Homo sapiens: one gene and its partners. The protein of the gene in region 5 purifies or fractionates together with the protein of the main gene of each other region. This does not show direct contact. Each region holds a gene or a part of one and is shown on either strand. Other genes may lie near its edges. The genes, in order: ESS2, LCN1, WDR81, C9orf40, DNAJB8, SCGB2A1 and FKBP5.

What was found.
Region 1: the proteins of DNAJB8 (region 5) and ESS2 purify together in Homo sapiens (affinity purification with mass spectrometry; 3 studies listed by BioGRID and IntAct, with this or other methods). This does not show direct contact.
Region 2: the proteins of DNAJB8 (region 5) and LCN1 purify together in Homo sapiens (affinity purification with mass spectrometry; 2 studies listed by BioGRID and IntAct, with this or other methods). This does not show direct contact.
Region 3: the proteins of DNAJB8 (region 5) and WDR81 purify together in Homo sapiens (co-immunoprecipitation; one large-scale study listed by IntAct). This does not show direct contact.
Region 4: the proteins of DNAJB8 (region 5) and C9orf40 purify together in Homo sapiens (affinity purification with mass spectrometry; 3 studies listed by BioGRID and IntAct, with this or other methods). This does not show direct contact.
Region 6: the proteins of DNAJB8 (region 5) and SCGB2A1 purify together in Homo sapiens (affinity purification with mass spectrometry; 3 studies listed by BioGRID and IntAct, with this or other methods). This does not show direct contact.
Region 7: the proteins of DNAJB8 (region 5) and FKBP5 purify together in Homo sapiens (affinity purification with mass spectrometry, with the first as the bait; one large-scale study listed by BioGRID). This does not show direct contact.

Annotation. Positions count from the first base shown.
Region 1 is NC_000022.11:19,134,652-19,138,151, forward strand, and holds part of ESS2 (splicing factor ESS-2 homolog), read right to left. Parts: intron 2,782-3,500; coding exon 2,672-2,781; intron 2,296-2,671; exon of another isoform or gene 1,688-2,295; intron 1,609-1,687; exon of another isoform or gene 1,558-1,608; intron 525-1,557; coding exon 409-524; intron 1-408. UniProt on the Homo sapiens protein: May be involved in pre-mRNA splicing.
Region 2 is NC_000009.12:135,520,207-135,524,239, reverse strand, and holds the start of LCN1 (lipocalin-1 isoform 1 precursor), read right to left. Parts: upstream 2,801-4,033; 5' UTR 2,743-2,800; coding exon 2,653-2,742; intron 2,194-2,652; coding exon 2,063-2,193; intron 1,009-2,062; coding exon 938-1,008; intron 361-937; coding exon 250-360; exon of another isoform or gene 1-249. UniProt on the Homo sapiens protein: Could play a role in taste reception. Could be necessary for the concentration and delivery of sapid molecules in the gustatory system.
Region 3 is NC_000017.11:1,731,204-1,734,703, forward strand, and holds part of WDR81 (WD repeat-containing protein 81), read left to right. Parts: coding exon 1-55; intron 56-1,121; coding exon 1,122-1,287; intron 1,288-1,462; coding exon 1,463-1,628; intron 1,629-2,323; coding exon 2,324-3,013; coding exon of another isoform or gene 3,014-3,027; intron 3,028-3,500. UniProt on the Homo sapiens protein: Functions as a negative regulator of the PI3 kinase/PI3K activity associated with endosomal membranes via BECN1, a core subunit of the PI3K complex.
Region 4 is NC_000009.12:74,946,083-74,949,912, forward strand, and holds the end of C9orf40 (uncharacterized protein C9orf40), read right to left. Parts: intron 2,125-3,830; coding exon 1,966-2,124; 3' UTR 501-1,965; downstream 1-500.
Region 5 is NC_000003.12:128,464,091-128,468,145, forward strand, and holds the start of DNAJB8 (dnaJ homolog subfamily B member 8), read right to left. Parts: upstream 2,801-4,055; 5' UTR 2,524-2,800; intron 1,347-2,523; 5' UTR 1,186-1,346; intron 24-1,185; exon of another isoform or gene 21-23; 5' UTR 1-20. UniProt on the Homo sapiens protein: Efficient suppressor of aggregation and toxicity of disease-associated polyglutamine proteins.
Region 6 is NC_000011.10:62,207,408-62,211,472, reverse strand, and holds the start of SCGB2A1 (mammaglobin-B precursor), read right to left. Parts: upstream 2,801-4,065; 5' UTR 2,742-2,800; coding exon 2,687-2,741; intron 1,061-2,686; coding exon 873-1,060; intron 1-872. UniProt on the Homo sapiens protein: May bind androgens and other steroids, may also bind estramustine, a chemotherapeutic agent used for prostate cancer. May be under transcriptional regulation of steroid hormones.
Region 7 is NC_000006.12:35,577,416-35,580,915, forward strand, and holds part of FKBP5 (peptidyl-prolyl cis-trans isomerase FKBP5), read right to left. Parts: exon of another isoform or gene 3,142-3,500; intron 2,807-3,141; coding exon 2,621-2,806; intron 1-2,620. UniProt on the Homo sapiens protein: Immunophilin protein with PPIase and co-chaperone activities. Component of unligated steroid receptors heterocomplexes through interaction with heat-shock protein 90 (HSP90).

The DNA of each region.
Region 1 (3,500 bases), on a different chromosome or scaffold from region 5:
CGCTCAGGTCAAACCTGAGGTCAAACAGCAGCACCGCCCTTGGCTGTGGGGGCTGGGGTGCACCCCCAGGCCTCTGAGAGTTGGAGTCCCCACCCCTCTCCAAGGGGAACGATGACTCTCTCCACAGGGCTGATGAAAGCTCCCAGCAGGACCACACGCCTAAAGATGCCTCTTAGGGACGGGTCAAAGAGGACGTGGAGGAAAGAGAAGATGGAGGGGGCCTCTCATCCTGTCCATGTGCGGCCATGCTCTGGATAGAGGAGCTGCCACAGTACCCACTGCAGAACCCCGCGGACCTGCCCTGGACTCTGCCGCGTGGGCCATGCCTCCACACGGTCAGGGCAGGGGCCGAACAGGAGCAGGCCAGAGCCACCCTCGCACTTCCCCACCAGCCAGGCGGCCCCTCACCTGGCCAGATTCTCCGTCACTCTCCGCAAGGCTTCCTGCTTCTTGGCCCGGTTCTTGGCAGCGGCCTCGTTGGCCATCTTCAGACCCAGCCGCTCCCTGCGGCCTGGCTCCAGGATCTACAAGGTAGCAGGTGTGTGGGTAGCTGCGCCAGGCCTGCCACACGCCAGGCAGCCCCTCACACAGAAAGCCACTGTGGTGGGTGCCAGCCTCTCTTTGTTGCCTACAAAACCCCCACAACCCATCACCTCCCACTAAAAGCCCCTGGAAAGCCCCAAACCCCACCTGACCTGCCCAAGGCGCAGCACTCCTCACCTGTCTTCGTGTTCCTCCCAAAACCATGACCTCTGACAATCTCTCAGGAAAAAGCAGTCTGTTTTAGTGTTTCCCTGATTATCAGAGTGAACATCTCTGTCTTTATCGGCGCTCTGTATTTCGGGCGCTTCCCCGTGTGCCTGTGGCCTATTTTGCTCTCAAGGGGCTCATTTTCCTTTTCTGCTGCTGTTACTCAGAAGACCCTTGCCAAGACCTTGTGTCAAGTCAACTGTGCTACGCTGTGCACATGTTTTTTCACTCATTTACATTTGTTTCATTTATAACATTTTCTGCTGTATTTGTTATTTTCATTTGTGATTTCTTCCTTTGCTTTTATGTTTAGAAAGTCCCTCCTAACTTAAGATTAGACTACAGGCTGGGAGTGGTGGCTCACACCTGGAACCTCAGCACTTTGGGAGGCCAAGGTGGGAGGATCACTTGAGCTCAGGCATTGGAGACCAGCCTGAGCAAAATGACAAGACCTCATTTCTACACACACACACACAAAATTAGCTGGGCATGGTGGTGTATGCTGTTAGTCCCAGCTACACAGGAGGCTGAGGCTGGAAGGTCATTTGAGCCCAGGAGCTCAATGTTACAATCAGCTATGATTGCACCACTGTTCTCCAGCCTGGGCAACAGAGTGAAACCCTATCTGTTAAAAAAAAAAAAAAAAAAAAAAAAGAGGCGAGGCACAGTGGCTCACGCCTGTAATCCCAGCACTTTGGGAGGCTGAGGTGGGTGGATCACGAGGTCAGGAGTTCGAAACCAGTCTGGCCAAGGAGTTCGAGACCAGTCTGGCCAACATGGTGAAACCCCATCTCTACTAAAAATACAAAAATAAGCCGGGCGTGGTGGCACGCGCCTGTAGTCCCAGTTACTTGGGAGGTTGAGGCAGGAGAATCACTTGAACCCAAAAATCAAACTAAATATTCGCCACTATTTTCTAGTCCCAGTTACTTGGGAGGTTGAGGCAGGAGAATCACTTGAACCCAAAAATCAAACTAAATATTCGCCACTATTTTCTTCTGGTTGTTTTATGGTTATTGTTTTTACATGTAACCTTTTCACCTTTCCACAATGTATGCTGCTACACATCCTGAGGACCCAGCTCCCTTCATTTCTAAATACTCTGCTATTCAGTGCAATCTGAGTTGCCATCTTTATCGGGCCCCAAATTCTGACTTGGATCATGGTTTGTTTCAGAATTTATCTGTTTACTGTTGGCCTGGAGACTCGGGAAGCAGTGGCAGGCATACCTCAGAAGCACCTCAGCCCTTGCCTTGCGCTCTCACATTGGACAGCACGGCATCCTCTTCATTATCCCTCTCGCACGTTTGCCTTGGTTATCCTTGTGTCCCAGACAATTTAGAACCAAGGTAACCAGAACCTCTCCCCATGTTTTGTCTGGACATGGGTTACCTGTACTAAGTATTCTGGGGAAAGGCCCGCAGTGGTATGGGGAGGCCTGTTGTATCTGACCCAGCCCACGAAGAGCCTCCCCTGGTCTGTGCCGGGCCTCACACACTCCACCCTGACCACTCCTACAACACCAGGCTTGAGCCGTGTAATCCAGCGTGTCCCAATCGTGTTCTGTAACCAGGGGCCTTCTCTACAAGCACACAGCCTCGTCCTATGGCCCTCAGGCCTGCAGAGCTCCTCACGTGTCTGTGACCATCCTGCCTCATTCATGAACAGCACCCGGCCTCCAGGATCCAGAGGGCCCAAGCCACTCCCTGCCTTGGTGTCTCAGCCCTTACACCCCCAAATCCCTCTGTGACAGGTCCACCCACCCACACCTGCCTTCAGCACCCTGGCATTCAGAAAAGCCAGCACTCTGCCCGTCAGCAGCTGGGGGCCGATCCCAGTGCTCAGTCCTGAGCCACAGGCACTCAGGGCTCCAGAGGTGTCCACCCCGGTCGCACACAGTTCCCCCATCACCACAACCCACCTTAAAAGCTGGGCCGGGTGTCCTGTCCACGTAGGGCGTTTCCGACCCTTCAACTCTCAAGGGTGTGTTCTCAACCTCCCCCCAGGTCATCATCGGGGACTCGTTCACACCTGCAGACAAAGAGCCCAAAACCACCTCAGGCCAGAGGACTCCCCACCACCCTCCCCTCCAGTCACAGCTTGTTCACCCAATGTGCATCCCAGCTAATACGAAGGCAGGCAGCTAGCCCTCTCTCCTTCCCCAGGACTCTGGAACCCTGGCACCTCCATCCTCCGAAAGGGAAATGCCAAGCTCCCAGCAGGCCCGAGGCAGGCTCAAGGCCCTACAGCCATGTGCTTAGCCTACAAGCCTCTGGGAGGTCTCCCCCAGCCACGCAGGAGGAGACACTCAGGCCTTCCAGGGCTCCCAAACCTCCTAGAACCCCAGGCAAACCTGTGGTGCCTTCACATGCCCTGGCGTGTGACACAGCACCAGCACCCAAGAGCACAGAGGCCAGAGTGCAGAGGGACACCCACGCATGCCACAAGACCACCTGAGTTTCACCTCCACTGAGGTGCTGGGCCTCCCTCCCTGCAGTGCTAGGTAGACTTAGACTCATAAGCACTGTGCACACACCCCCACCCACTGACATCACAGTAAGGACCAGGACAGGACACGTCATCCCAGGATGTCTCAGGCCAGGTCTGCCTGAGAGTCCAGCCCACCCACGGCCCCAAGCAGCCTGGACACCTGGCCTCTAGGGCCTTGTACAGACAGGAGACCAGGTCCCTGAGTTACACAAGGTGTGGGGCAGGCCAGGTAGAGGCCAGGAGTGGCCAGGGCCGACTGA
Region 2 (4,033 bases), on a different chromosome or scaffold from region 5:
CTTTGAACCCCTGTGCCTGCAGCCGTGGCTCCTTCCTGCCTCTGCTGCAGATACCGAGGCCGGGGCATCCCAAATCCTGAACTCCAGGGGTGGGAATTGAGGCCTTTATCAGGAAAACTCATCCTAAGAAAACTGCAGTGGGTTCCTGGGTCCCAGTGGCTTCTCCCATGGGGAAGAGGGTGCAGGAGGCCGAGGGAGGAGGGAGGGCAGGTGGAGGCATGGGTTGCAGGGTGAGGGTGCGGGACCCACCCACGAGCTTCACCCCTCGGACCGGCTTCCCGTGCAGCTCGCCCTCACAGTAAAAGATGTAGTGGTCCTTCACGTGCGACCTGATGATGTATGCCACGTGCTTGCCCCCGTCTGCAGAAAGACAGCAGCACATTCCTGAATTAGCCACCAGGGACTTCAGAGAGGATCCCGGGACAGCGTGCGTTGCCAGGCCCAGCAAGCCCCGCAGCTCCTGCACCCTCCCAGCCTCCCAGAGCTCCCTGACCCAGGTTCCCCACCAGGCCTGAGCCCCAGGCCATGGGACCCCCACTTCCCAGGAACCTGATGTACCCAAGAGGCGGCCACATCCCAAACCAGTGAGTCACGGGGGGTTCCTCCGGGTATGAGGTCTGCGGAGGTGGGAGTTGGGGTACAGCCCCCCGCAGCCAAATACGACTCTGCTCCTGGCCCTGCCAGAGCCACAGCCAGGGCTACAGGGCAAGCCCAGAGGGTCCGCCCCGGGACAAACCTGCCACACCTGGTGTTTGGGGTCAGGTGTTCAAGTCTCTAATGCAAATTGACCAGTGGGAGAAGAGAGTGGGCTTTTAGTGGAGTCAGAAGGCAGCAAAAGGCTTCCCAGGCCAAAAGGCCACCCCAAAAAGGCACTGGCTGCCCCCGCACATCCAGCGTGTGTTCAAGCTCAGGCTCTGGCTCAGGCCCCGGGACTCACCGGCCGTGTATTTTCCCGGCTCGTCAGTTTTCTCCAGGACGGCCTTCACCTCCTGGCACCGGCCACTTATCCTGGAAAACAGAAGCCCCCTGGCAAAGCGGCCCTGGCCTGTGCCTCCCCCGGCCCTGGAGCAACCATGCTGCAATGCCCTGCAAATGTGGCCCCGAGTCTGCCACAGGCCCATGGAGGAGGGTGCTTCTCTGCATCTCAGACCCAGGCACCAGCGGCCCCTCCGGGTCCCATGCGGCAGTTCCCGGGGTCTCCCGAGATGGCCAGGAGCTCTGCACCGCTCCTCCTGGTGGCTGCCTTCCCAAACCCCCCGCCCCCAACACATTTCCTGCCAGAGGCACCCAGGCTGCCTGGTTTGCAGGCAGCGTCTGTGGCGTGGGCCTGAGCCTCATCCCGCCAGCTGCATTCTTCCTTTTAGAGACATTCAGGCACAAGCCCCATATCCATCATCATCTGGCCCAGAGAGGGAAAGGTTCAGTGAGGGGCTTTGGGGGAAAAAAAAATCGGGGTCATTGCCAGGGTCAGTGACTTCCTGAGATTCAGCCCCCAGGACCGGAGCACAGGCACTGCATGCCACTCAGGAGGGAGCCATGCGGGTGAAATCACACAGGTGGGAAGTCACAGATGTGAGCCACGCGGGTGGAAGCAGCCCAGGTGAGAGCCGCACAGGTGAGCGCTACACAGGGATTTCAAGGGGGTCTTCTCCATGGTGTCTTCTCCTATGCCCCCTCTTGGTCATTCTGCAAGCCCCATCCCTGCACTTCTCCAAAGCAGAAATTTACTGCCAGGACTGGCTCTGACTCTGGTCGGGGGTAAACACCTTTTCCCAAAGGGGCCTGCACGTCACCAGACATTCCCTAGTCGGAGGAGGAAGTGGGCGGTACCCAGGGCTGCCACTGGTAGCCCACAGGGTCTGATCCGGGGCCTCTGCCCCCTCAGGGCCCCTCCAGCCGAGGCACCTCAGTGGCACAGTTTGCCCTCAAGCATTGCAGGAGGGGCCGAGAGAGGCCTCCCAGCAGGTCTGCCCACCTCCCCAGCACCAGAGCTCTCCTGGGTGGGGAAAGGGAAGGCCCTAGACCAGGTTGCAGGCTGCCCGGCCGGCTGGCAGACACTCACAGCATGGTGACCTTGGCTTCCAGGTTGCCCCCTTCCAGGGTCGTGAGGGTCATGGGTGTCACCGATTCCAGATTCATCTCAGGGAACTCCCTGTCCACCGTCATGGCCTTCAGATACCACGTCCCTGACACCTGGAGAAGGCCCCTCTCTATCAGGCTCAGGCCGACTGCTCCAGAGCCTCCCCCTTCCCTGGCCTGCAGCCCCTAGACTCTACCGCACCCCGAGGGCTGGAAACGGGGAACGTTCCCCAATCTAACCCACCCAGAAAACACCCAGCACCCTCGCCAGGCCCACTTGAAGGTGGCTCCAGCCCCCACAAGCCAGCCAGGACCACAGGAGCCCTCATCCCCAGGGAAGAAGTGAAGTCAGCCAGACCCCCACCCTCCCAGCCCTGCCCACTCTGCACCCCTGCGCCACCTACCCTGCCAGCCCAGACCCCTGCTGCCCCATCCCACCATTCCCTCAGGGCAGGGCTTGAATGCCCAACCCAAAAACGAGGGTCTCCTTGGATGGAGGAGGCATGGGGTCTCCATCCAGTCTCAGCCTCGCCCCTTGCCCCCTCCAGCCCAGCCTTCCCATCCGGGCCTCACATCCTGAATCTCCTCGTCTGAGGCCAGGAGGTGGTGGGCCTGCAGGGCAGCAATGAGGCCAAGGCTGACGGCCAGGAGCAGGGGCTTCATCTCCGGAGTCTGAGTCCACGGCCGCCTGACAGGTCGCTTGCTGGGGCTGGGAGAGGCTGTACCAGTCCTCCCACAGCCGCCCTTTATACCGCTGGGCTCAGGGTCCCCCAGGGACCTGGCACAGGAGACTGACCAATCCCTTCCTGGATGTAAACCACTGCCAGTTCTGCAATGGAGCAGATAACCTGCCATTATTGTTGGAGGCTGGTGAATAACAGCTTGTTAATCCCAGAGGATCACTTGGACAGGACCAGGTCCAGAGGAGCAGATTTGCAGATTTCACCTGAAGGGAAACTGAAGGGAGTGAAGGGTGTGCAGGCCTCCTGGGGACGTGTGCAGCCGTAACAGATGCCCCCCAGCCATCCCACACTTGCTGACGTGCACACTGTCAAGGGGGTTTGGGGTTGGAGTCCGAGGGCCGTGGGCTTGGGGCTCAGCTGAGCTTCCTGCATCTCTGGGCAGGTTACTTGGCCTCAGATTCATCATGGAAAAAAAGGGACCCTCCTGTGTGAACACGATCCCGTGTGCATTTAAAGACGGTGTCCACTGTCCTGAGCAAGGTGTGCAGTAACGACCCTCTCTGCTCCACACACAGAGCAGCAATAGGTCAGACAGACAGAAGACCAAGACAGGTGTGTGTGTGTGTATGCATGTGTGTACATATATACATGCACAAACGCACACACACTCACATAAAACAAGGAATGGAGGAGAAGCACAGGCTGGTGATGGGGCAGAGGCAGGGGCCTGTCAGCTCCAAGTCCCAAGGCAGGCAGAGAGGGCCTAGGTCCGGCTCCTGGGAGTGATGGGAGGGGCTTCCCTGACTCCAGAAAGAAGGCTGAGAAACCCTCCTTGACACATCCCAGGGCTGTAACTTCGTATAACTTAGTGGAGCACTGTGGGCATAGGAAGGCAAGAGGACATCAACACAGCCTCAAGGGCAGAAGCTGAGACAAGCCGTCCTTGGAAAGGATGACTTTATCTGTGACATGCTCTGCATCACTGCAGAGCAGAAGCCTGGGACCCGGGATGGGAGCAGAGGCTACAAAACACTGCTAGACAGAGGACAGTGACAACAAGATGGCAGAGAAAGGCAGAAATGCAGAGACACAATATCCTCACCTTGAAATAAGCTAGAAAGGCCAGGTTCCAAATTACCCAAGGAAACACCACACTAAGAAAGGCAGGCTAAAAATGAGCAATTGGTACAGGAACTTACACCAGCCAAGGAAAGTCTGACACACACTTTAAAACTGCAGGAGTATGATCAAGATGCCTAGTGATTTAAAAA
Region 3 (3,500 bases), on a different chromosome or scaffold from region 5:
TCAGCCATGAGGTCCTGCTGCCCGTGCTCAGCTTCCTCACCTCCCTCGTCACGGGGTAGGCCTCTGCCCCAGCTGATGTAGGGGGACCGGCCCAGCGGAGGGGCTGCCCAGGAGGGGGTGGGAAGCTCAGGGGAGAGGACGTAACACTGGACTGGGTGTCAAGAGTCCTGGTTTTGATCCCGGCTGTGTGACCCTGAGCAAACCACACCCTTTTCCTGTGCCTCAGTTTCCTCATCTGGTTTGGACCAGTTGGTCTTGGAGCTCTTTCATTTAAAGCTTTTGATATGTCCGGGCACGGTGGCTCATGCCTGTAATCCCAGCACTTTGAGAGGCTGAGGCGGGAAGATTGCTTGAGCCCAGGAGTTCAAGACCAGCCTGGGCAACAAAATGAGACCCCCTCTCTAAAAATATATATAAAGGCCGAGCGTGGTGTCTCACCCCTGTAATCCCAGCACTTTGGGGGGCCAAGGCGGGTGGATCACGAGGTCAGGAGTTTGAGACCCACCTGGCCAACATGGTGAAACCCCGTCTCCACTAAAAATACAAAATCTTCGCTGGGCATGGCAGCAGGTGCCTGCAATCCCAGGTTCTCGGGAGGCTGCAATCCCAGGTTCTCAGGAGGCTGAGGCGGGAGAATTGCTTGAACCCAGGAAGCGGAGGTTGCAGTGAGCTGAGATCACGCCATTGTACTGCAGCCTAGGCGACAGAGCAAGACTCTGTCTCAAAAAAAAAAAAAAGTATATATATATGCTGGGTGCTGTGGCTCATGCCTGTAATCCCAGCACTTTGGGAGGCCAAGGTGGGTGGATCGCTTGAGGTCAGGAGTTCGAGACCAGCCTGGCCAATATGGCAAAACCCTGTCTCTACTAAAAATACAAAAAAAATTAGCCGGGTATGGTGGCTCATGCCTGTAGTCCCAGCTACTCGGGAGACTGAGGCAGGAGAATCGCTTGAACCCGGGAGGCAGAGGTTGCAGTGAGCCGAGATCGCACCACTGCACTCCAGCCTGGATGACAGAGCAAGACTCCATCTCAATAAAAATAAAAATAAATAAAGATTTTGCTAGATTCTGGTCAAGTCCTGCAGAACGGCGGGCTGGAGCTCATGAGCTCTGTTTCCAGGTTCCCAAGTGGGGCCCAGGCTCGGACCATCCTGTGTGTGAAAACCATCAGCCTCATCGCCCTCATCTGCCTGCGCATTGGACAGGAGATGGTCCAGCAGCACCTGAGCGAGCCCGTGGCCACCTTTTTCCAGGTCTTCTCTCAGCTGCATGAGCTTCGGCAACAGGTGGGCAGATCTGCTGGGCCAGGGCGGGCTGGGGCGGGGGCTGTGGACCTGGGTGACCCCCTGGGCATCTTGCTCATAGGATCTGAAGCTGGACTCCGCGGGCCGTGGCGAGGACCAGGGTGGGCCAGGGTGGGAGCTGTGGACCCGGCTGACCCCCTGGGTGTCTTGCTCATAGGATCTGAAGCTGGACCCTGCGGGCCGTGGTGAGGGCCAGCTGCCACAGGTGGTCTTCTCTGATGGGCAGCAGCGGCCCGTGGACCCCGCCCTGCTGGACGAGCTGCAGAAGGTGTTCACCCTGGAGATGGCATACACAATCTACGTGCCCTTCTCCTGCCTGTTGGGTACTGCCCCATCACGTTCCCCATCACAGTCTTCGTGGCTGTCTCCTCCCTTGGGAGGCCCCATTCTCTGCCCTTGCCCCAGAGTCAGCAGTGGGTTCTAAGAGCCAGCAGGATGGGTGAGAGCAAAGGGATTTGGCCTCAGACCCCTACCCCCAAGGTGACACACAAACAAGGACTGAGCAGTAGCCAGCAAGAGAGGCCCAGAAGCTGGCCTGTAGTGTCCCTGGGGAAGGCAGGAGAGTCAGGGAGGTGGACTGGCGGTCCGCAGGAGCTGGCGAGAGGGAAGGAGTGGCCTCCTGTTTACGAAGCTTCCCCTCTGGGCCCTGCACGGTGCTGTGCTGATCGTTTCAGCGTGTCATCTCCCTGGAGAGGACAGACAGCCTTGTGGTTACACCTGTTATCATCCTGCCACTGAAATCTAAGCTTGGGAGGCCAGGGCACCACCTGTCTTGTTCCATATTCTATTCCTAGTGCCCAGCACGGCACGGCACATATAGAAGATGCTCATGTGTACATCACAACGGAATGAATCCACATTTCACTGAGGAGGAAACTGAGGCTCAGAGACAGAGTTACTTGCCCAGAGTTGCAGAGCCAGTTCCTGCCCCATCTTCTGTGGCTCCCGAGTCCTTGGATGGGTGATAGCAGCCGCCTGCCATCTTCCCTGTCTCAGGACCTCTCCCACTCCTATCCAGGTGACATCATCCGGAAAATCATCCCCAACCACGAGCTGGTTGGGGAGCTGGCGGCGCTGTACTTGGAGAGCATCAGCCCCAGCAGTCGCAACCCTGCCAGCGTGGAGCCCACCATGCCCGGCACCGGGCCCGAGTGGGACCCCCATGGTGGGGGCTGCCCTCAGGATGACGGCCACTCAGGGACCTTTGGGAGCGTCCTGGTGGGGAACCGCATTCAGATCCCCAATGACTCTCGGCCTGAGAACCCCGGACCACTGGGCCCCATCTCGGGGGTGGGTGGCGGGGGCCTGGGCAGCGGGAGCGACGACAACGCCCTGAAGCAGGAGCTGCCGCGGAGCGTGCACGGGCTGAGCGGAAACTGGCTGGCGTACTGGCAGTACGAGATCGGCGTGAGCCAGCAGGATGCCCACTTTCACTTCCACCAGATCCGCCTGCAGAGCTTCCCGGGCCACTCGGGGGCCGTCAAGTGCGTGGCACCCCTAAGCAGCGAGGACTTCTTCCTGAGCGGCAGCAAGGATCGTACCGTGCGCCTCTGGCCGCTGTACAACTACGGCGACGGGACCAGCGAGACGGCCCCACGCCTCGTCTACACCCAGCACCGCAAGAGCGTCTTCTTCGTGGGCCAGCTTGAGGCCCCGCAGCACGTGGTGAGCTGTGACGGGGCTGTGCACGTCTGGGACCCCTTCACAGGTGAGCGGGCCCAGGTGAGGCCTGTTCTCTTCCTGCTCCTGCGCCCCACCAGGCCTCCAGGAAGGGGGCCCGAGGGTGGGGCTGTAATGCTGCGGAGTTTGGGGAGACCCAGCGAGGCCGCCTAGGAGAACAGTTAGGGCTTCGAATCTGTTAGACTTGAGTCTGAATTGGCTCCACCGGCTTACTTGCTGAGTGACCTTGAGCAAGTTCCTGCTGCTGGAAGCGTCTCCTTTCCCATCTATAAACTGAGAATCAGAAAAACTGGCGTAGAAGATAACACACAGCCGGGCGCAGTGGCTCACGCCTGTAATCCCAGCACTTTGGGAGGCTGAGGCGGGTGGATCACGAGGTCAGGAGATCGAGATCATCCTGGCTAACATGGTGAAACCCCGTCTCTACTAAAAATACAAAAATTAGCCGGGCGTGGTGGCGGGTGCCTGTACTCCCAACTACACAGGAGGCTGAGGCAGGAGAATCTCTCAAACTC
Region 4 (3,830 bases), on a different chromosome or scaffold from region 5:
CATAAGTGTACTGTGGTAATTTAAGATGTTACATTAGGGAATTGGGGTGAAGGGTTATAACACATTTAAAAACCCACATTTTACCTCAATTTATCCACAATGAAATTTTGCTGTTACCTCAAGTTTACTTAGTAAACAACTTTTTTAAAGGACGGAATTATTTTAACTCTTTCTGTTTTCTATATATAGACTGCCCCTGACTTGATGGTTTGACAGGATTTTTCAGCTTTACCACAGTGTGAAAGTGATATAAATTTAGTACATTTAACTAACCATGGGGTTATGTCCTGATAAACCCATCGTAAGTTGAAAATATCATAAGCTGAAAGTTTCAATTCCAATTTCTATCCTGAAACTTCTAGAGGCAGTTAAAACTTTAACTATAGGCAGCATGTTTATTCTAATGATTTTTTTTAACCTACCTTAAGGTTATTATGAGAACTAAACAAGATGATGCAAGTAAAGTACTTATAACATTGCTTGACAATAAACAGTCTCTCTGAGGTAGATACTATTTATTATTTCTCATTTTACAGGTGAGAAATTTGAGGCTTGGAGATGAAAAATAACTGGCTTAAAGATACATAGGTAGGAAGTGGCAGTACAAGACTTTGAACCATGTCTGACCACAATGCAATACAGTTTGTCTTCTGTTCTAAAGCATTCTTATTAATGTCAACCCATTCTTAAATCCTTCATTACACAAAAAAAATCAAGTTTTTCTCTTTCCCTCTCAATGGCATTTACCATTTGTCTTGAATTTTGGATCTAATGTCATCAACAACAAAAAATGCAAGCAAGAACCAGTTACTCAATTGCAAAACCAACATTCTGGATGCAGTACAAAAGTTAGTTAACTTAATCACTGATACTCACATCACAAATTGCTTACTTTATTTCTTTAACAATGAAATAGTAATAACACAATAATTCAGTTGTAACAAAGCCACCAACAGAGCAAAACAAAAACAAAGCTAATTAAGAAGCATTGCTTCAGCTCAAATTAGTTATCTCCTTTAAACAGGAAAAACGACCATTAGTCTACTGGTTCTCAACCCTGTCTGCACATGAGAGGAATGGAGGGAAACAGGACAGGTGTTTAAAAAAATAGTTATATCCAAGACCCACCTCAGAACTATTAAATGAGAATCTCTCAAGAGTGAGGCCCAGGCAAAGATTTTTAAAGTGCTGTCAGTGTTGAAAACTACAGGTCTAAAGTAATAAGGAATAAAACCATGCCTCGAAGCAATTCAAAACCAAGAAGCTGATTATACAATAAATTTTTTCCTCTAATCCTGGGAAAACAGGGGGAAGCAGGCACCGATTCAGTTTTCATTTTTCTTTATCCATCTTCAGTTGCCCATAGTAGAGCTTAACCAACATCAAATATTGGAAGCTTTGCAAACACGCTACCCAAATTGAAATTATCACTACTTTACATTTAGAAAGCTCTTTTAAAACAATAGCTTTTACAACAATCCCGCCCATCTTAAGTTTGCATAGATGTTCAAGTCAGCTATTTGTTCAACTAACAGAGTCAATAGAATGTATTAGAAAGTACTTTATTAACAAGTTATTATAAAACAATATTCATTTTATATACCACAAATAAACTTTTTGGTGCAGATAGGAGGAATATTTGAGTTTTTCCCACCTATTTCTAAAACTGCTAGAATTTCTTTTTATAAGATCAGTACCTTCAATTCTAGAATTTAAACAAAACTTTTTGCTCTAAGAATGCATACATAAAATACTTCCCCTACAACTGTACTCTATCCTTGACAAATCCTTATTAAGAGGTTCAGTAGTAACTGTAGGTATTTAATGTCAGAACAATCTTTCTTCATTTCTCAGGTTTGGAAATATAACTTCAAGTATGGAAAATAACTTTTCCCTTAAGAATACGAGAATTCACTTAGAGACATCTCCTCAAATCAGCCAATCCCACTGCTTCGGCTCCTTACATCAGGACTCCATGTCAACCTCAGCCCCTTCATTCCTGCCCTGAAGTGTTGCTTCTGTCAGGGTGTCTTCACTTAAATCTTCAATGTCTGCCAGATCAATAGGAGGCAAAGGATTCCTCCAGTACTGGAAGGTATTATACTGCCAAAATTCTTCATTGTGCTTTAGAGAAAAAAGAGAGATCAAAGAGCATCAATAGCTTAGAAAAAATTAAGTTTTTTTCAGAAAACAAATTTGTTTTAAAGGCAAACTCATATAAGATTTTGTAATCTTCTATTTTGTATTTTTAACAAATATACATTTTAAATTTTGTCTCATCTAAGTACTTCATGTACTCGATGAAATCTGTGCATTTTAATATTTACAATTTGTGAAAGTATTTGTTAAATTTAAAGGAATTTCCTCCAAGAGCATCTCTTTCCACAGTTTTTCTCCCATTTTTCACCTAAAGAAAATTATCTAAAAAGTCTTAAAATTTTTTATCTTTCAAGAAGGAAAAGAAGAATTTATTTTAAAAATACAAACACAGACACACTCCTTATAACTTACTTTTGGTCTTGTTCTTAAGGTCTGGTATTTTAGGAGATTTACTTTACATAGGCCAAAATATTTTGAAATCTTCCAAAAAGTATTAGGTTATAAACATGACGAATAGCAAGAAAATGTTAAACTGATCATTTTATTAAAGATAAAAAAAAAATCAATGCTCAGTAGCCACATGACCTAGTGGCTACTGTGCTGGACAGCACAGGTCTGTAAGAAAGTCTCATTAGGAAGTTCACTGTCTTCTATGCTGAGCCTTAAAGAATTAAGTTTTGGGGGAATTTCTTAATATTGGGATAAACACACAATAAGTCAAAAGATATTAAGAAAAATTTCACTTTAATATTTTGGAAAATCTACTGTACAAATTATCTACTTATAAACATGGACCAAAAAAAGGTCTTTTAATTATGTTAGTAAAACATAGTGACTAAGGGCACACAAACTTTGCCACCAGACAGACCTGGGTTTGCAAGATAACTCCACCGCCCACTAACTCTGATCTTGACCTTATTGATAAAATGGAGGACTGTTGTAAAAATTCAGGCTTGGCATAGTAATTGCTCAATATTGCTAGGTATTATATCCCAATAAGCCTATGAATCATTAATCACTGTCTCCTTAGAGCATTTCTGCTTACTTTCTGTTAAGAATATCTAACAGTTGGCTGGGCATGATTACACCTGTAATCCCAGCACTTTGGGAGGCAGAAGGATCGCTTGAGCCCCAGAGTTTGAGACCAGCCCTGGCAACAAAGCAAGACTCCATCTCAATTTATGAAAAACAAACAAATAAACAAGAAACTAACAGTTAACACTGACAGAGCAGTGAATCTACATAGTGACACTAACATGAAAAAAATACATGAATATTTAATGAATACCTGATTTTATTTCTGTAGTCAAAAAACATCTGAAACAGGAAATACCCTGAAGTTCCGGGACAGAAATGACGTAACATTATCCTGCCTAGATTGTATTCTCAATGTAGAAAAAAGGTATTTGAGGTAGTATTTCCTAAATGAAGTCCCAAGGGTGAGGGCTGGGACTTAAGCCCTATTCTGAGCACAAAAGAAACCAGGCATTTACTGTATTGAACTGTTTACTTCTTTTTGTTATATTCAATTTTCCCTTGGTAATCAGGTATAAAATCCTTAAAACAAAAAGCCTGTGTCTTTGGAGGCAGGAAGGAGAAACAGAAGCTGGAGAGAGCATGATTGTAAAAGAGAAGCGCCTCCAGAACAAATCTAACAAAAAGAAGGAATAGGAGTGTTACTGGGCTTTCCTCAAAAGAGGGCCTGACAGTGGCTCACGCCTGTAATCCCA
Region 5 (4,055 bases):
AAGAAGTGTTCCACTCAATTCTGGTAAGAAAAATAGGAATTGATGATAAATATTGATTACTGACTGTAGTGGGTTGAATGGTGGCCCCCAAAAAGATATGTTCCTATCCTAATCCTTGGAACCTCTGAATGTGAGCTTATTTGGAAAAAGGATCTTTTCGGATGTAATTAAATTAAGGATGTCGAGATGAGATCATCCTGGATTATCTGAGTGGGCCCTAAATCCAGTGACACATGTCCGTATAGGAGATGGACACTGACGCAGCTGGAAGCTGGGGGCCAGGAGGGTTCTCCCTGCAGCCTCCAGAGGGAGTGCGGCCCCACTAACACCTCGATTTCAGACCTCTGGCCTCCAGAACTGGGGGAAGAGATTTCTTTTGTATTGAGCTACCCAGTTTGTAATAATTTGTAACAGCCCTAGAAAACGAATCAGGTGAGTGAGGTAACCAAATATTCTTAGGCATTTATATTCCTTTAATTCTTGTTCTGGTGTTGGATCATATATAGAAACAGCAATTCACAATACTGATTAATATCTGTTCCTACCTTCACCTCACCCCACTCCAATTAAGATCAAAACCATGCTAAACCACCTACTAACCACACCAATAAAGAGCCTAGATGTTTGGGTCACCAAGTCTTAACTAAAGATAGCCTTCCTGCCTGCCTTCTTTCCTTCCTCCCTTCCTCCCTCCCTCCTTCCCTCCTTCTTTCCCTTCCCTTCCCTTCCGTTCCCTGCCTTCCTTCCCTCCTCCCTCCCTCCCTTCCCCCTCCTTCCTTCATTTCCTCCTTCCTTCCTTCCTTCCTTCCTCCCTTTCTCCTTCCTTCCTTCTTTCTTTCCTTCCTCCCTCCCCTTCCCCCTTCTCCCTTCCCTCCCTTCTTCACTCCTGGCTTCTTTCCTTCCTCCTTCCTTCCTTCATTCCTCCCTTCTTCCTCCTCTTCCTTTTTCTAGTCTTCATCCCTTTCTATTATCCTCCCTCTCTCTCTTTTCTTTCAGTGCTCATGGGTGCTAGGTTTCAGGCTCCTAGCAGGGGACAGTGTGTGTTCTAACCAATCCCAAATGCCAGGAGGAATGGAGACAGACTGTAGAGACACTTTGTAAACCCAGCCTCCAGTGACCATCGCTGTCCCTCCATGCAGCTTATCAAAAGCACGACTCGCACCCCCATGCTGGGCATCCACCCACCTACACCTGCTGACACATGTGGCTTAGCAGAGGAGTTGAAGAGCAGAACTTCTCCACTGGATGTAGCTACAGATGAACCTGATTCTTTATCTCTGTGGCTGGATTTTTGTCACTATGTCTCGGTTAGCAGTTAGCACCTGCTGTCCCTTGCAGGCTTGTTCCTGGGGCGGGAGAAAGATGCTTGCCCTGCACAGTTCTCCATGATGGCGGTGGCAGTGGGAGAGGCACTGCTGTTGACTGTGTTGCTGGTGGGGAGAGGCACGGTGGGTGTCCATGGAGATGGATAAGGTGTCATTATATAGTAGAGGTGACCATGGGAGCAGTGTTGATGTGGAGGTAATGGTCATGGTGGGTGTGAGGGGGAGAGTAATTATGGGTGATGGTGGAGTTGATCATGATGATGGTGATGCTGGTGGTGACAGCAGCAAGGCTTGTGCTTGAGAGTAATTGATGATGGTAGTGGTGGTGGTGATGGTCATGCCAGAGGAGATGGTAACAGCGAGCCTTTGTTGTGGTTGGCAGTGATGGTGCAGGTATGATGAGGAGGTGATGGGAATGGCTCCTAGTGAGCCATTGGTGTGGTTGGCAGTGGTGACAGTAATGGTGATGATGAAGGTGAAGGTGGTGGAGGTAGCAGAGGTTGTATCTTGTTCGGCTATACCACAGTGACAGCTTCCACCTCTCAGTGGCTCACGACAAACATCTAGTTCCCCCCACTTCACTCACTGGTGCCTACAGGCAGCTGCCAGGGCCCCACCTCCCATAGCTTCTCACTGTGGGTCCCAGGCTGGAGAATCAGCTCTGACCTGCACACCCCTCTCTCATGACAGTGCCACTCAGAGACAGCAGGAACTTGGGCTGCCTCTGAAAGCTTCTGTTGGGCCATGATGTGTGGCAGTCTTGCTGCATCCCATGGTCAAGGCCAGTATCCATGGGGCAAAGAATGTTTCCTTCAGGAAGGTTCTGCAAATCTCAGGGCAATAGGAAGAGAGGCCTGAGATTCCCATGGGGAAGAGGGAGTGAGCAGTTCTCCAACATATGCCAGATGCTCAAGATGGGACTGACAGCGGGGCTGGTAACGATGGCTCTGCTGGGAGCAGTGTTGGTGCTGCTGGTGCCGGGGACACCCGTGGTGGTGATGGGATAGGAGGCAGGAATTGTGCTATTAATGGAGGATGGTGGTGAGGGTGGTTGTGGAAGAGGCAATGGTAGAGGGGGGTGCCGAGGGGTGAGAAGGACACAGTGGTGGACATGCTGGTGTGAGTGCCGATGGCGATGGTGATGGCACTGAGGTGTGGGGCTCTGTATTTTCTGTTGCTAACTTGGCATTACACCAACCTCTTCCATGGTCTCCTTGCATCCTGGAGAAATCTGAGGGATTTTCCAGAATCCCATCACCGGTATAATTCCAGACTAGAGCCTGCCAATACAAGGGATTTGGAGAGTGGAAAAGAGAGGCCGTTGCAGGCAGGTGACAATGGTGAGCTTTGCAACAGCTCGGGGCAATCTTCTGCGAAGACCCTGCTTCTGAGCCACAGGCTGAGGCATGGATGGGGAGCTTCCTGGAATACCGTGAGCTCCTCAGCAGCTCCCAGGCAAGCTCTAGAGAGCCGCTCACCTGGGAGCTGCAGGTGAGCATCTCGATTCCTTGTTCCCTGACCGCTGGTCCCAGACTGTTCAGGGTGCAGCGTGTAGTAAATGTCCTCCTCCTTGGTACACATTTGAGGGCTGTGTACTGTGAGGGTGATGGCGGCTCAGATGAAGGTGGTGGTTGTGATGGAGTTGGGTGTGAGGATAGCAGAGAGAAAGCAGATGGTGACATCAGGAAGGCATTGGAGGGGCAGTGGTGGTGGCAGTGATGATGGTGGCAGTCTAATTAGAGGCAGTGGTGGGTCTGGCTGAGGCAGACCCGGTGGTGGTGATGGTGGTGGTAGTAGAGGGGGCAATGACGGTGGTGATGGCAAAGGCGGTGTGAGTGGTTGATACTGGTGGCAGAGCTGATAAGGTGATGTCACAGATGGGATGGTGGGTGGAGATGGAGGTGGAGGAAGTGTGGTGACAGTGATGTGGTGGTGACACAATGCTGACACGGGTGGAGAGCACCGTGGTGACGGTGACAGAGATGATAGTGATAGTGGGGCTGGTGGCAGTGGTAGAGGAGATGGGGATGGGACGCTGGGGTGTTGATGGTGATGGTGACACTGCTGAGGGTGTTGGTGGCCTGACATTGTAAAGGTGAAGCCTGAAGTTTCCATGACGATGGAATCAGGACAGTGGAGGAGGGGTGGTGAAAACAATGTTAAGAGACAAAGGACCTAGTATGATGAGGCATCCAAGAATCCTGTGGCCGCCTCCCCGTCCTGGCCCTCCCTGCCTTGTTGGAGACCCTGGCTCTGGTCTGCGTTGTACTCCCAGGGGAAATTTCTTCCAGCCACTGCCCTGCTCCAACCCTTGTTCCTGGGATGGGTCTGTGGGAGTCAGCCAGGATGGAGACAGGGCTGGAGACCCCCTCACTGCCGCCCATTCAGGGCTGTCTTAGGGCACACAGAACAGACCACTCGGTAGGACTTACGGGAACAGGTGTGTCACCTGGGAGCAGGTCCCACACCTCACCATCAAGGGCATCCTGAGATGGAGGCCCCTGTGGGGAGCTCCCCATGAAGGGAGCTGTGGACCGTGGAGCCGGGCAGTGTGCAGAGGAGTTTCCCTTCTGCAAAGGGTTCAGGCTAGTCTCCTTCCACGCCAGTTTTTGGGGAGCCAGTGGGGAGCATCAGGGGCTCTGAGGCCTCCATAGGGCCTGCTGGAGGGACAGGGACACACAGGCATGAGCGCACACTTAGGCCCCACACGCTCCACCGTCAATTCTGTCA
Region 6 (4,065 bases), on a different chromosome or scaffold from region 5:
AACGAAGATCATGCCACTGCACTCCAGCCTGGGCAACAGAGTGAAACTCCATCTCAAAAAAATTTTTTTCTTTATTTTAGAAAATGCAGAATTTGCACAAATTGTATTTTCTGAGCTAGATAAAAAAAAATAAGAATGTTTTGAATATTTGTTTTTGTGAAAGTAGGAAATTTCTTAGTAGATTGCTCCTACAAGTGTGTGATCTCTTGAGAACCAGATATTTTCTCTTGATAAAAATGTGCATGTTCTGGCTGGGTGCGGGGGCTCAGACCTGTAATCTCAGAACTCTGGGAGGCCAAGGGAGGCAGATCACTTGAGGTTAGGAGTTTGAGACCAGCCTGGCCAACATGGTGAAACTCCTTCTCTAGTTAAAATACAAAAATTAGCCCGGCGTGGTGGCGCACACCTGTAATCCCAACTACTCGGGAGGTGGAGGCAGGCAAATCTCTTGAACCCGGGAGGTGGAGGTTGCAGTGAGCCGAGATTCACGCCACTACACTCCAGCCTGAGTGACAGAGCGAAACTCCGTCTCAAAAAAAAAAAAAAAAATGCCGATGCCTGTCCCCGTGTGTCTGTGTGTGTCTATACTTGTGTGCTTATGTGTGTCTGTGTCTGTGTGAGAAGGGACTGGTGAGGTCAGAGGTAGACGGGTGATCTCTAAGGCTTTCTTTTCTCCTTTTTGCCTTTTCCATTTATCACTCCCTAAAGATTCTCAATGTGAAGTGGCAAAGCAGCCTGGAGACAAAGTTTAATGAATTGATATATAAAGAAAGTTTGTTCACCAGTTGCTTGGCATTCTTGGTGCCAAATTTAGAGCCCGCTGGTTCTGATCAGTGATTTTCAAAGGGTACATAAGAAGAAACCCAAATTACCATCATCAGTCCAAAGTTTTTCAGAGTTCTATGTGACTGGTTGAGGAAACACTGCTTGAATTTCCCCATAGCCTCTGCAGCGGCATCACTGTCTATGAACTCTTGAAGAAGCTCTTTGTATTCAGGTATAGATATGTCGGAATTGATGGTCTTTTCAACCATGTCCTCCAGGAGTTTGCAGCCAGAATCTGGAAAAAAAAAAAAAAAAAAAAAAGACACAAGAACATGGGCCATTACTAGAGGTGTGATTCATTCTACAGATGAATTGGGAAGCTGGCTATCTTCGTACCTCCAGGGACAGACCGAGGTTCAGAAAGATTTTGGTGCAGTATGCAGAGTTCTCAATTCTGGGAGTGTAAACTCAGGCTCTGCAAATTCTCTCTGACCTTCCAAACCCAGAGAAGCCCAACCCTGTGTATTCTTGGTGAAGAGGACCCTCGAGAAATGAGGTGTTCTGACTGGGGGGACATAGCAAACACTACTTGGACTTTCTTGGTTCAAAGTCATGCAATGCTTCCCTGTTATCATGCCCAGCATCAGGTAGGGTTTCCAAGGATTTCAGATGAATGGGTCTAGGACATTGTCCATTAGTTCTGTTGACTCTACTGCAATAAAAGGGAATGTGTGGCCAGGTATGGTGGCTCACGCCTGTAATCCCAGCACTTAGGGAGGCCAAGGCAGGCGAATTGCTTGAGCTCAGGAGTTTAAGACCAGCCTGGACAACACAGGGAGACCTCATCTCTACAAAAAATTTAAAAATTAGCCAGGCATAGTGGTGTCCACCTGTAGTCCCAGCTACTCGGGAGGCTGAGGCAGGAGCATTACTTGAGCCTTCGAGGAAGAGGTTGCAGTGAGCTGAGACTGTGCCATTGCACACCAGTCCCAGTCCCAGCCTGGGTGACAGAGCAAGACCCTGTCTCAAACACACACACACACACACACACACACACACACACACACACACATGAATGTGAAATAGAGCTTGTTCATGAGGGGATCTGAGGTCACCTCCCACTGTAAGGGAGAGGAACGAGCTCAGGACGTGGCTTCATGTGAGCTGGTTGTGCTCTGGACTTTGTGATTTTCCAGTTAGTTGACTGTGAGCTTGTCACCCTTCTACACATCTGCACCTACCTTGGATGCCAATACGGTAGGGTTTGGAATCCACCTTTGTGAACTGCACAAGGCAGGCTACCTATGGAAATATTAGCGCTGATTCCAGCAGCCGGGGCTTTTTCCTCCCACTGAATCTTTAGTGCTGGAAGGAGACTCCAGGGGTTGTGAGTTCTCACCTGTCTGCCTTGAGCCTGAAGCAACTGGGAGGGTAAGGGCATCCCAGAAGGACCCAGATCAACTCTGAGAACACAGAGTGAGCCACACAGGGTGAGAGACACTGGGTCACACTCTGCAGCCTGGGCCTTCTGTCCTGGGAGGTTTCCTATTTCGTTCCATATTCAAGGAGACCCATGATTATTTCCTGATTTCTAGGTGTAGATGCCATCTCTCCCTTGCCCCACTGAAATAGTTCATTTCAATATTTAATCCTGAGACTCATCCTGGTTTCTATGGTCACCGTGACCATGGTGAGACGCTGAGTGCCATGATACACTGTGTGCAGCTCCAATGCAGGGGACAGCCCATGAGGACACTGCATGCTTGATTGTCAGGAACTCATGGGGATCCTAAGGCCTATCGCACCCAGGCCCTTCACACTGGGGCTCGTCTGTGCTGGGGATTAGAGGTTGGGAGTTCTTCTACAGGGGCCCAGGTGACAATTCCTAGCCCAGAAGCAGCCCTCTCTGCCCAGAACTCACCTGCATAGCAGTGCAGGAGGAGGGCCGCCAGCATGAGGACCATCAGCAGCTTCATGGCGAGGCGGCTGCTGTCTGTGTTCAGTCGTGCGTGGCAGGGATCAAGGAAGTTGCTGTGGAGGTGAGTACCCAGCCCTGCTCTATTTATTCCCCAGGGAGGCACCTTAGTCCCTCCCAGGAATGAGGCAATGTGTCAACCTGGCATGGGACCAGGACACAATAGTGTACACCAATGGGAACACAGCCAGCCTGTGCTCTGTTTGTAGAAACCAAGAAGGCAGTAATATTTGGATCCCTGACAATCTGGGGACTACAATAATGATACATGGCTTTTAGTAAAATGGATGTGACAGTGTTTTCCAAAATATAAAGCAAAACCCAGTGGCGTGATCTTGTGGTCTCAACAATGTTGTTATTATTGTAGTTTTCTTCTAGTCCTCCTTCCCTTCTTCCTCCTCCTCCTTCTATTCTTTTTCTTCTATTCCTCTTGGTCTCCTCCTCTTCTCGTTATTCTTCAAGGTACAAACAGTTTCATAACTTGTGTATCTGCCGGTCCTGGAATCATCAAATATTTGGGCTATGTGCAATACCTGCATCTTCCTATGGGAGGCAGACCTTCCTAATCCATAGACATTTCTTTTTCAGAAAAGCGGGTTTTTTTGTTTTTGTTTTTTGGGGTTTTGTTGCTGTTGTTGTTGTTGTTTTGAGACAGAGTCTCACTCTATTGCCCAGGCTGGAGTGCAGTGGTGCGATCTTGGCTCACTGCAGCCTCCGCCTCCCGGGTTCCAGAAATTCTCCTGCCTCAGCCTCCTGGGTAGCTGGGATTACAGGCATGCGCCAGGACACCTGGCTAATTTTTGTATTTTTAGTAGAGACAGGGTTTCACCATTTTGGCCAGGCTGGTCTCGAACTTCTGACCTCAGGAGATCCACCTCACTCAGCCTCCCAAAGTGCTGGGATTACAGGCGTGAGCCACCATGCCCAGCCCCGAAAAGTGCTTTAAGTTTTGGGGAAAACATTAATATCTAACCTCTACTGAAAGCTTCTTGTTATTCTTGTTAAGAATTACAACACTAAGTTAATTCAACTTTACAAATTTATTTTACAATATATTTATAATTTAATTTGTGCTTAGTTCTTTGTTAGCCTTTTACGGTTTTCTATCCACTGACTGAGAGGATGCTGTGAGTGAGTGGAGTAACTGACTGCTTGGGCAGGCAGTGCTAGGCAGTGGGTGGCAATGGGGTTGGGTGATGATGAGATTTAGGTGATAAGATTTGGGCAGGTGTGGGTGTGGATCCTGGAGGCCACACGTACTCATGCTGTGTCTTTGGGCAAATTACAATGCTGGTCCCTCTGGGCTTCCTTTCTGTCTTTGTGAA
Region 7 (3,500 bases), on a different chromosome or scaffold from region 5:
CTAGAAAGATCCCAAGGAGATTTGAGAGGGGGCTCTTGAGAAGTTCATTTTAAAGTTCATTGGAACAAATAAGTGCCCAAGAATGGCTGAAAAAATTTGGGAAAAAAGAAAAAAATAAGAGGCACTTGTCTTACCAGAGAAAAAGACAAACTTTAAAACTACTGAAATTAAGACAGTTTGGTTACTAGCATGTGGACAAACAGCTCAGTGGAACAGAACGAATCATTCAGAAACAGTCATGTGTCTGCATATAAAAACATTTGAAAATGACAAAGGTGGTAATGTGAATCAGTGGAGAGTTAACTTTAAAATAAACGGGGCCAGGATGGCAGCTATCCACATAGAAAATAAGAGTTAAGGCCGGGTGCAGTGGTTCACACCCTAATCCCAGCACTTTGGGAGGCTGAGGCAGGTGATCACCTGAGGTGAGGAGTTCGAGACCAGCCTGGCCAACATGGCGAAATCCTGTCTCTACTGAAAATACAAAAATTAGCTGGGCATGGTGGCAGGCGCCTGTAATCCCAGCTACTTGGGAGGCTGAGGCAGGAGAATTGCTTGAACCAGGGAGGTGGAGGTTGGAGTGGGCTGAGATCGTGCCACTGCACTCCAGGCTGGGTGACAGAGTGAGACTCTTGTCTCCAAAAAAAAAAAAAAAAAAAAGTTCTTACCTCATATTGTAAGCACAAAAGTAAATTCTAGATCAACCATATTTACATATTAAAAAAAACCATAAAATGTTTCAATTATTTTTTATTTTAAAATATGTAAAATATAATCATTATTTTTTTGAGGCAGGGTCTCACTCTGTCGCCCAGGCTGGAGGGCAGTGGCTCAATCACAGCTCACTGCAGCCTCTATCTCCTGGGCTCAGGCAATCCTCTCGCCTCAGCCTCCGAAAGTCCTGGGGTTACAGGTCACAGGTGTAAACCACTGTGCCTGGCTTCAGTTATTTTTATAATCTTGGTGTGGGGAAGTCTTTTCTAACTAGAAAGGAGACGACAAATCTGACTACATAAACATTAAAACCTTCTTTAAAGAGAAAGATATAATCAACAAAGCTAAAAGAAAATTGCTGGGTTGTGGTGGCTCACACCTGTAATCCCAGCACTTTGGGAAGCTGAGGTGGCAAATCACCTGAGGTCAGGAATTGGAAACCAGCCGGGCCAACATGGTGAAACCCTGTCTCTACTAAAAATACAAAAATTAGCCTGGTGTGGTGGTCGGCACCTGTGGTCTAAGCTACTTGGGAGGCTGAGGCAGGAGAATCGCTTGAACTCGGGAGGTGGAGGTTAGAGTGAGCCAAGATTGTGCCATTGCACTCCAGACTGGGTAACAGAGAAAGACTCCATCTCCAAAAAAAAAAAAAAGAGGAAAATAAGGAGAACAGGCTTCCTATTGCCAAAGATAGGGTTAATAGTGATGCTATATGACTGCTTCTGTCAATAGAAGACAGAAAAATAATGTAGTCAAGGCTGTGCTGGGTGTGGTACCTCACAACTTTAATCCCAGCTCTTTGGAAGACCCCCATCTCTACAAAAGTAAATTTAAAAATTAGCAGGGTGTGGTGGCATGCACTTGTAGTCCCAGCTACTCAGGAGGCTGAGGTGGGAGGATAGCTTGGGCCCCAGAGTTTGAGGCTGTAGTACATTATGTTCATGTGTATTAATAGCCACCGCACCCCAGCCTGGGCAAAATAGCAACAACTTGTCTCTAAAACAAACAAAACACACACACGCGCGCGCGCACACACTCTCTCTCTCTCTCTCTCCGCTCTGTATGAAAAAAACGAAAAAATACATATAAAATTAATAACTGGTCTTGGGAGAGAGGATGCGATAGGAAACACTGATCCACAAAATTCAAAAATAATCTCACAAAGAATGTACAAAATAGTTGCCTTGCTTTTCTTATCCTTTTATGTCTACCTTTAAGATACATCCAATGATTAGTTTTTACTTTTACCCACAGTATAATATATACTGTTCACTCTGAGACCAGATACCTAAAATAGTATCGGCTGGTGTATAAATATATCAGAACGATACATAACGATACAGATGATAAACCACTGTTATAGAGTACTGTGTGTAAGCACTCAAAAGACCAAAGATAGTATTAATAAGACAAATGTAAAAATAAAAAGGCTGCTGATGCTCTGTGGACCTTTCATATTATTTATGCATATCAGTGAATAAATGATTATAATAAAAATTGACCTATATATATGCTTTATATGAACAGTTGCAGTCTGTTAAAGTCCAGAAAAGCTTAAGTTAAATCTTCTCTTATTAAACTGAACCTGAGGAGTTATACGTCTACTCTGATATAAATACTACAGTTATAAGGAAGGTCGTGGATAAAAATTATTTAATTTTAATCAAAACTTTTCTTCAGAATGCATTATGATAAACAGTCTAGGTATCATAAAAGTCTGACTGTAATAAAAATCTTGCTGAATTTCCCAATTCATACTGAGAAACAAATAATCCCAAACATTCAAATAAATAAAAAAAAGCAAAATGAAAAATCCTGCAACCTTTGGCTGAGAGGAAGCAAAAGACAGAGATGGAGAAAAGATCTGGAGTATCTAAAGTCCATCTCACAGGAGACACGATGTTACCTTGTCACAGCATTCAACAGCTTTGGTGTATTCTCTAAGCTTCAGGTAGCACATGGCCAGGTTCAGAAAGGCAGCAAGGAGAAATGATTCAGAAGCTTTCGATTCCTTTTCTGATAAACCATATTCCATCTCTAACCAGGACACTATCTTCCCATACTGAATCACCGCCTGCATGTATTTGCCTCCCTAGGATAAAAAAGCGTCATTACTTGTACTCAGCTCTTGAGGGGGTACAAAAGAAAAGCAAATCCTCAAAGTGAAGCAACCCCTCCAGCAAACCCTGGTACAGCTGGTTTCTTTCTTTCCTTCTGGAGATGGCTCTCCAGGTACCTTTCCCACTCCCTTGGAGGCCTCGATGGCCTGTGGGCTGGTTTGGGGCAGTGCCTGAGCACTGCCTAGTGCTGCTCTGCAGCATTTCCATCCGTCCCTTCAGCAGGTGTAGTACAGCAAGGCTTCTGGGCTATGTTCTTTGGTGCTAATATTCTTTAGTCTTTTTTTTTTTTTTTTTTTTTTTTTTTTTTGAGACACAGTCTCGCACTGTCTCCAGGGCTGGAGTGCAATGGCGCCATCTCAGCTCACTGCAACCTCCGCCTCCCGGGTTCCAGCGATTCTCCTGCCTCAGCCTCCCGAGTAGCTGGGGACTACAGGTGGCCGCCACCAAGCCCAGCTATTTTTTTTTGTATTTTTAGTAGAGACAGCGTTTCACTATGTTGGCCAGGCTGGTCTTGAACTCCTGACCTTGTGATCCGCCTGCCTTGGCCTCCCAAAGTGCTGGGATTACAGGCATGAGCCACCACACCTGGCCTATTCTTTAGTCTTTCAAAAGGATTGTGAGCAGTTTTAGACTATGCCACTAAAAAAATGAAAAGGAAGTTACTTT